3 separate regions of the Homo sapiens genome follow, and all the other regions are linked to region 1. Evidence: fine-mapped expression QTL. A gene starts in region 1. Each other region holds a variant in brackets. All regions are shown on one strand. Distances are between the middles of the regions. Region 1 holds the start of SRPK1 (SRSF protein kinase 1). Region 2 holds the start of CLPS (colipase). Region 3 holds the start of SLC26A8 (solute carrier family 26 member 8).

Region 1 (2,500 bases):
AAATAAGAATAACCGTTGAAACGGTTGAAAAAAGATCAAAAGGGCCTGGCTCAGTGGCTCACACCTGTAATTCCAGCACCTTGGGAGGCTGAGGTGGGAGGATCACTTGAGCCCTGGATGTCCAGGCTGCAGTGAGCCGAGATCATGCCACTGTACTCCGGCCTAGGCAGCAGAGCAAGACTGCTCTCTCTGTCTTTCTTTAACCCTCACCTTCCCTTCAAAACCTAACAAAGACCATGTTTAAATCAATAGAAGAACATTTTATGACGTGAAAATTATATGAAATTCAAATTTCAGTGTCCATACATAAATCTTTATAGGAACACAGCCCATATTTTCTATGACTGCTTTTGAGCTCCAATGGCAGAGTTGAGTAGCTGAGAAAGAGATCTTATGGTCCACAAAGCCTAAATATTTACTGTACGGCCCAAAGAAAAACTTTGCTGAGCCTGCTATACAATAAGGGCTTCATGATTAAATAACTGGGTCGTACACCAAGATTCTGAACATATAGGCAGGCCCTCTTAAGTTTAGTGTCTTTGTGTAATGGAAGTAATAACTATTTTGCCTTTAAGTTGCCATAAACATCAAATGAGATAATGCACTTAGAAAATAAAAACAAAAAAAACTTATAAACAAGACAGCTTTATCATGTATTGAAGGTGGTAGAATAAGAAAACATTAAACGTTTTTATTCTCATTTCCCCTTCTTTCCTTTACAGCTTTCACTTAAACTTGAAATTTCAAGAGAAAATTCACTTTTGAAGTTTTTACTTTTCAAGTGATAATAGGGTCACAGGTTCTTTCCTTCCAGTCTTTTTGTGTTGCTCCCACTCCCTTTTCTTTCTCACATGTAATTTTTTTCCATTTTCTTTAAATAGTATCTCAACTGGGCTCACAATAGCTCAGGGAAGGAGAAACTGGGACATGCCTGATTAATCCATTTTACAGGCCAGGAAACTGAGGCAGATCCCAGTTGCCTCCGAAGCTCTGACTCAGCAGCATGCAGAGAGCCCTGCCGCTCTCTGCGCCTTTTCTAAACAAATAGAACAAAACTAACCTTGCCAGGTTTCCAAGCTTGGATCTCTAACACTCCTTCAACGTTCACCCCGGCGTTCCTCCCCGCTGCGCCCCCTCCCTCTCCTTGCCGCCCCCTCCTCGGGAGCAGGTGGTAGGCTCCGCGCCCAACGCGCAAGCGCGCGGCATCGTGGGGCGGGGGTGGGGCGGGACTGAGGGCGGAGTGTGAGCGGGCTCGGTTTTGGGCCGCGGCGGGAGCGGGAGTCGCCGCCACTCGAGTGCGCAGGCGCCTGGCGATTACCGGTCTCACCATGGAGCGGAAAGGTGAGCGGTGGAGCGGCCTCCGCCACGAGGGGCAATGGTCGCCGGGGCGAGGCCCGGGTCAGCGCCGGGAGCTTCGCTTAACTGCCGCGGTTCGGTTCCCGGACGTGCGGCGCCCCTCCACTGAGGTGGCGCCGCCCCACACCCCCTGCCTCTGGGCTGCGGGTCCGCGCCCCTCAGTCCGGGCGTCCTCTGGCGCCGGCCGTAGCCGCCCCTTGTTCCCCGCCAGGCCGGCTCGCGCCTTGGGGCCACTCCAGGGCCCGGCCCTTGGCGGGCGACGCAGACCCCCACCCGCCCGCCCCCTGACCCGGCCTGAGACCCCTCCGGCGCATCCCGCCCGGGCGCTGCTCTGCGCCCCGTGGGCCGCCAGCCCCACGGCCGGCCGCCTCGCCGGAGCCCGCAGCCGCCCCCGAGGCAGGCCCCGCAGCCGGGCCTGGCGCCCCTGCTGGGTCTCCACCCTCACCTTGGTCGCCTCCTTTCCTCCACATTCGCCCTTCATCCATCCCTCTCTCCTGCAGTGCTTGCGCTCCAGGCCCGAAAGAAAAGGACCAAGGCCAAGAAGGACAAAGCCCAAAGGAAGTGAGTCTTGTACCCCAACATCCCATTCTTTGGATTTTCCTCCGGCACCTTCTCTGCTCTGGTTTCACGTCTTGAACGTGCACCGGGTTTGGGCACCCTGTGGCTGCAGCCACATGGCCTCGGGGCAGCTCGGAGGGTCGCTCTCCAGCAACCATGTGGAAGAGAGCTGCTGTTGCTCAACGCCAGGCCTGGGTCTTAGCAGCCCCGGGCCTGCTGGAAAGGGCTGTCGGAGGAGGACCAGAGCCCGCCCGGTACCTTTCCTCCCCAACTCCACAGAGGAGGCACAAACTCCCCTAGCTTGGACCTCCCCACCGGAGCTGGTAGATCATTATCGGTCTGTTTCTGAACTCTGGTCTCTCTTACCTGCTCCCCAACGTCTTAACTTGCCTCCGACGTCTTCACGGTAGGCCTTAAGGAAATTCTTGAATGAATTTTTCCGTGTTTACTTTGGGTTCTACCAACCACACACTCCCTTTCATAGAGGAGGGCATGGGGCTTTTCCCTGGGTTAGTCAACTTCCTGAGCCTGTAAGGCGTATCGGCTTTTTTGCAGTGTGCCGGCAGACCGCTGTGTATACAGTCGG
Region 2 (2,844 bases), 120 kb after region 1:
GTGAGGTTCAGGGAGCTTCACTTTCAATAATGTGTCTGAGGCCACGTAGCTCCAGTAAATGCTGAATTTTGAAGCCAGCTTGGTCTGGATCAAAGCTGTGCTTGAGGCTGGGCACAGTGGCTCACACCTGTAATCCCAACACTTTAGGAGGCCGAGGTGGGAAGATTGCTTGAGCCCACGAGTTTTAGACCTGGGAGGCTTAGGGGGAAGATTGCTTGATCTCAGGAGGTGGAGGCTGCAGTGAGCCAAGATGGCACAACTGCACTTCGGCCTAGGTGACAGAGTGAGACCTTGTCTCAAAAAATTAAATTAAATTAAATTAAAAGCTGTGCTTGAGGCCTGGGCCTCTCAGTGGAGCTGTCTTCTACCTCCTGGGATGGAGAGGGGAAGGGCAGGGGCCTCTGGCTGCCATGACTAGTCCTTCAGGAAAAGCTGCTCTGTTCCCATGCCTGAGCAAACTCAGGCAGCTGTGCCCTTCCCAGCTTCCTGAGGCCCCTGCTCCATCTGAGGCTCATGAGACCTCTTCATTCTCAGCCAGGACTAGCGACTGCTCACGCGCGCACGTGGCCTTGGGTAGGGGGCAGCGTGAGTGGAAACCTTAACTAAAGGGGTGAGTATCTGATGCTGGAATTGCAGATAGTAAGTGAGGTAGAAAGGAAAGGGGAGAGAGGCATTTAGGAAGGGCCTCCTAAGGGCCCTTGAGTCAGGCCTGCAGGCAGCCCCTGGTGTGAGGGCAGGGGGAGGGTGCCAAAGTGAAAGCACACACACCCTGGCCTGCTGGGGGTTGCAGAACTGTCAGCCCCAGGGATCTGGGCATGGCCTGGAATCCCCCGAGGAGACTGAAGGAAGGTTGAGGGGTGGGAGGCTAGGATCCTCGTCCCTGGAGTCTGACACTGCTAGACACCTGGGCTTGGGTGGGCCAAAGGCAAGGCCTGACTATAGTGAGGCAGAGAGGCCCCAAGTACACAGAATGTAAGCAGGCACTCACACCATAGGTGCCTCTCTTGCCTTGGATTCGTCCAGGCACTGCCCAGGAGCTCAAGACACAAGGGCAGCCACCCTTACCCACTGCTTATGTGGCATATGGGAATATACAATATAAATATATTCTTATAATTGTATATAATAATGTTTATATATATGTAACACATA[A/TAA]ATGTGTATTAATTCAACCCTCACAACTCTTTAAATTATCCTTAGTTGACAGATAAGATGAAAGGCAGAATAGTTGGAACAGATAGTAAGTTTGCCTCACTAATAACTTGTACACAGTCCATACTCTTAACCACGATGCAACACAATTATCACCAACACACACACACACACACACACACACACACACACACACACGAAAAAGGCCACCAGGTACTCACCCAGTTTCCTTATCAGGAACCGCCCCACAGCAGATTGGCCACAGCTGTGCCTCTGCCCACGGCCAGCCCTGTGGGATGCAGGTGGATCTCGTGAGGTCAGGGCCCCTTTTATAGCCCCATCACCACAGCTGGCTCTGTCTCCCGCCACCCACACCAGCTGTCCCACTCACCATGGAGAAGATCCTGATCCTCCTGCTTGTCGCCCTCTCTGTGGCCTATGCAGCTCCTGGCCCCCGGGGGATCATTATCAACCTGGTAAGAGGGTCTTCAGGGGAGGCGCCTCCTGAGTCCCCAGATGAAGACTTCCTAAGCTTGGACCTTGACCTCTGATGTCTCCACCTGGACTGGCAGGGGCTGGGAGGAGTGGCATCTTGCATCCCTCTGTTTACTTCCATGTCCTGTCCTATGCCTCTTCCCAGAGGCCACAGGAAAGGCTGATCAGCCCCTCTCCAGCTCCAACTGGAGCATGCTCAGAGCAGCAGCTCAACCTGGCTATGAGGGACCTTTTTTTTCTTTTTTTTCTTTTTGAAACGGAGTCTTGCTCTGTCACCAGGCTGGAGTGTAGTGGCACAATCTCGGCTCACTGCAATCTCTGCTTCCCGGGTTCAAATGATTCTCCTGCCTCAGCCTCCCAAGAAGCTGGGATTACAGGTGCCTGCCATAACGCTCAGCTATTTTTTGTATTTTTAGTAGAAATAGGGTTTCACCATGTTGCCCAGGCTAGTCTCAAACTCCTGACCTCGTGATCCGCCCACCTCGGCCTCCCAAAGTGCTGGGATTACAGGCATGAGCCACCTCACCTGGCCCTACGAGGGAGCTTTGTAAAAATCCAGAGCCCTGGGCTTCCATCCTGAGAAAATGCTTTGCGCCAATCATTCCAGCTTCTGACTTATGGAGATGCCTCGGAGATGTTTACTCATTCTGTTCTCATAATAACCACTGAGGGAGGTGTTTTCAGAGTCAGCCCTGTCTTCAGACAGAGAGAGGGTGAGCAACCTGCCTGAGGTCACATAGCTGGAAAGTGGTTCAGCTGGGGCCCCACCACTGCCCCACACCACCTCTCCACCATGGGTCTTGGCTGGGAAAGCCCTTCCAGAACGTCCATGCGGTTGAAAGGTTCTGAACTCTCTTAACTTGGGGCCATGGCTGGACTTGGAGGTCCAGGACCCTTGGAGATTATAGATCAGATCTGTTGGGGGAGGAAGGAGTCTTGCAGGGAGATGCAATCTTCACCGCCTCCTTAAAGAGGTGTGGGACCCAGAGTGGTTTGGAGAACTTGTCTAGGGGCCTTGTGTGCACATTCCAAATGGGAACACTGAGGCTTGGGAGGCAGTGACTTGCCCAGAGTCACACAGGAGGTTGGTAGCACAGCCGGTACTAGAACCCAGGGGTCCTGACCCTCTGTGCAAGTCTGCTTCTCTGTCACCGCATGCCCACTTCTCACGTGGGTGGGGGGCACAGAGGCCACCAGACC
Region 3 (2,844 bases), 100 kb before region 1:
TACAAAAAGGAATACATAAAGTGCATTATAAGGTAGACATTAACACAGTCATCAAACAAACAAGTGTAAAACTGTAACTGGGCCAAGCAGGAATACAAGGTGGAGTGAGAGACAGTGCTAGGGACAGGGATAGGGTGGGAGGAGGGTAAAGGGAGTGAGTGCAGATGGCATGTCTGCATCCAGAGCAGATCTGGGCAGGAGGGTGTCATTCAGTGGGGAGAGCCGGGTTTGTGGGGCAGACAGCCTATGGTTGGAGACCTGGGTGACCCTCCTAGCCTCCATTTCTTTTTACCTCTTCTGACCTGAGGAAGGCTTAAGTCTTCCGGAGACGTTAGTGAATTACCGTCTGTGCAGTACACATGTGACACATGTGCACTGCTGTATGTTCAGGACACGAGGCCTGGCACCAAATAGGCCCTCGATCAAGAATAGCAAAACCTCGGAGAGAGAAGGAGCCTTGGTATACAGGTTTACCAAATACCAAGGGGATCCCACGACTCAGGTATGAGGAGGGCGACCCAGGTACCACTTTCCTGGCTCCCTAGCCCAGCTGCTCATGCTCCTCTTCCTCGTCCCCTCCCCCACTCTCATCTCCTCAGCCCGCCCGGAACGCCCGCGGGCTAGGCCACAACGGCTCGGGAACCGCCGCCGGTATCCGCGTCCGCAGCGCCGCCAGCCAGGCGAGAGCCGTGTGGGATCCCAGCGCCCGCACTCCCGCCCCCGCCAAGGAGCCAGGTGAGCCGCTGCTGGGAGACGCCTGGGCGCCGGGGGCTGCAGGTCCCAGGGCGGGGGCTGCGTCCGTCACCGGCAGGTACCCAGGTATGCCGCAGAGCCAGGCACGCCGTGGGCACTCAGTCAGTATCTGTGGAATGAATGAATGATGGTCGTCCCTGGGAGCTTATCTCTGAGGTATTGTCTCTACTTTCAAAGGCCGTGTGGATGGCAATGACAAGAGACAACAGTGTGTGCGTTTTGCAAGCTGCATCCTTTCAAATTCTCCTGTCTATATTGTCAAAAGCCCCAGAACTGACGTGCTACCTGCACCCCACCGCCTACCCCATCCATTTCCTCCTGAGGCCTGACTGCCCGGCCGTTCCTCTTCCTTTCAGACCCCACTGCTTTTGTTAATTTTGTTCCCTGTGACTGAATCCCCACCCCCACCTCCTTGCCCCTTTCTTTTCATGTCAAATGCC[G/A]TTGATGTGTCAGGGGCCCCGTGAAGCCTTCTCCAGCACCCCCACCCCAATAATGAGCATCTCTCCAACACACCATGTTACTCTATCCACATTGCATGGAAGGTGGTTGTCCTATGTTTATGTGTCCAATGGTCATCCGCTTAAGGACTGTCATCTTACTAGTCATCCCTAGCCACTAGCCAGAGTGACTAAAGGATCTAAAGGCCAGGCTCTTTGCTTATACCTTTTCTGTATTCCCAATACATTCTCCATAAAAACCTAGGTAGTAACAGGTGTAGGGTTGTTTCTGATGGAATTACAAATGCTTATTTTGAAAATTCGGAAGTAAATTTTGCCTTTCCGTGATTATAGAAAACATAAGAAAGTTAACAATATCAGGGGGAAGATATTCCTGCAACTAAACTAGCTTTCAAGATTTCATATTATTTGGGTCAATAGCTAAAAAATTGGATTGTATTTAAACTTTTTATTCTTGACTTTTTTTTTTTTTTTTTTTTTTGAGACAGAGTCTTGCTCTGTCGCCCAGGCTGGAATGCAGTGGTTTGATCTCGGTTCACTGCAACCTCTGCCTCCTAGGTTCAAGCGATTCTCCTGCCTCACCCTCCTGAGTAGCCAGGACTACAGGCACGCCATCATGCTCGGCTAATTTTTGTATTTTTATTAGAGACGGGGTTTCACCATGTTGGCCAGGCTGGTCTTGAACTCCTGACCTCAGCTGATCCAACCGCCTTGGCCTTCCAAAGTGCTGGGATTACAGGCATGAGCCACTGAGCCATGTCTGGCCTATTCTTTACTTTTAAAGCACTCTGAACACAGATAATGTAAATAATTAGATAAATGGATGGATGGATGGATGGATGGATGGATGGATGGATGGATGGATAAGGGTACTATGGAGGGTGAAAGAGCTAGGCCAAAAGTGCTTGTATTTTAACAGGGCCCCCAAATTTAGCACTGAAAGGCTCATGAAAGATAATCCACTATATTTATAGTGGTAGTCATACTTTAATTTTTATCAGAATCACCTGGACAGCTTCTTTGCTTTTTTTCTACCTAGCAAGACCTACTGAATCAGAATCTCTGGGGGCCCAGCAGTCTGGACAGCTTCTTAAAACAGACTGATGGCCCCCAGAGTTTCTGATTCAGTAGGTCTTGCTAAGTGGGGCCTACTCAACAGTAGGAGTTTCTGGTCATTGCATCTTCTTGGGAAGTGTCCTGCTAGTACATGAAAATGAGCCACTAGGATTTCTATGAAATCAAGAAAGACATAATGGAGCTGGAGAAATTCCAAAGAAAATTACTTAAAAAAAATAATAAGGAAACCATGCGTTTACCCTTGCTGCTGTTAGCCAGACATTTGATGGAGTTCCTTAAAGACAACTTTCCACCTGCTCCTCCTAGCCATCCTCACTGTGGTCGTAGGAGTTTATGACTTGATAACATCTCCTAGACTAATATTAATGGTCTCCAATTGGCTGTTTTGCCTCAGTCTCTCCTATCTCCACTGTCCAACAACTTTTTGTGATGATGGAAATTTTTTATATCTGCATATCTGCACTGTCCAGTAAGGTAACCACTAGCCATATGTGGCTGTTGAGCACTTGAAATCTAGCTAGTATAATTGAGGATCTGAATTTTTTATTTTAAGTTT

The links. PIP is the estimated chance that this variant, and not a neighbour inherited with it, causes the effect.
Region 2: its variant is fine-mapped to the expression of SRPK1 in pancreas (GTEx, PIP above 0.99).
Region 3: its variant is fine-mapped to the expression of SRPK1 in whole blood (TOPMed, PIP above 0.99).

The regions. Positions count from the first base shown.
Region 1 is chr6:35,919,885-35,922,384 of GRCh38, reverse strand. SRPK1 (SRSF protein kinase 1) reads left to right here and starts at 1,287. Exons shown (of 16, transcript NM_003137.5): 1 at 1,287-1,341; 2 at 1,857-1,917. The coding sequence starts at 1,329. RefSeq lists silencers at 945-1,004, 1,035-1,624.
Region 2 is chr6:35,795,986-35,798,829 of GRCh38, reverse strand. CLPS (colipase) reads left to right here and starts at 1,507. Exons shown (of 3, transcript NM_001832.4): 1 at 1,507-1,625. The coding sequence starts at 1,542. The variant A/TAA (reference allele first, on the strand shown) is at 1,153.
Region 3 is chr6:36,022,395-36,025,238 of GRCh38, reverse strand. It overlaps SLC26A8 (solute carrier family 26 member 8), which reads left to right and starts at 598. Exons shown (of 20, transcript NM_052961.4): 1 at 598-735. RefSeq lists enhancers at 152-651, 652-1,153. The variant G/A (reference allele first, on the strand shown) is at 1,194.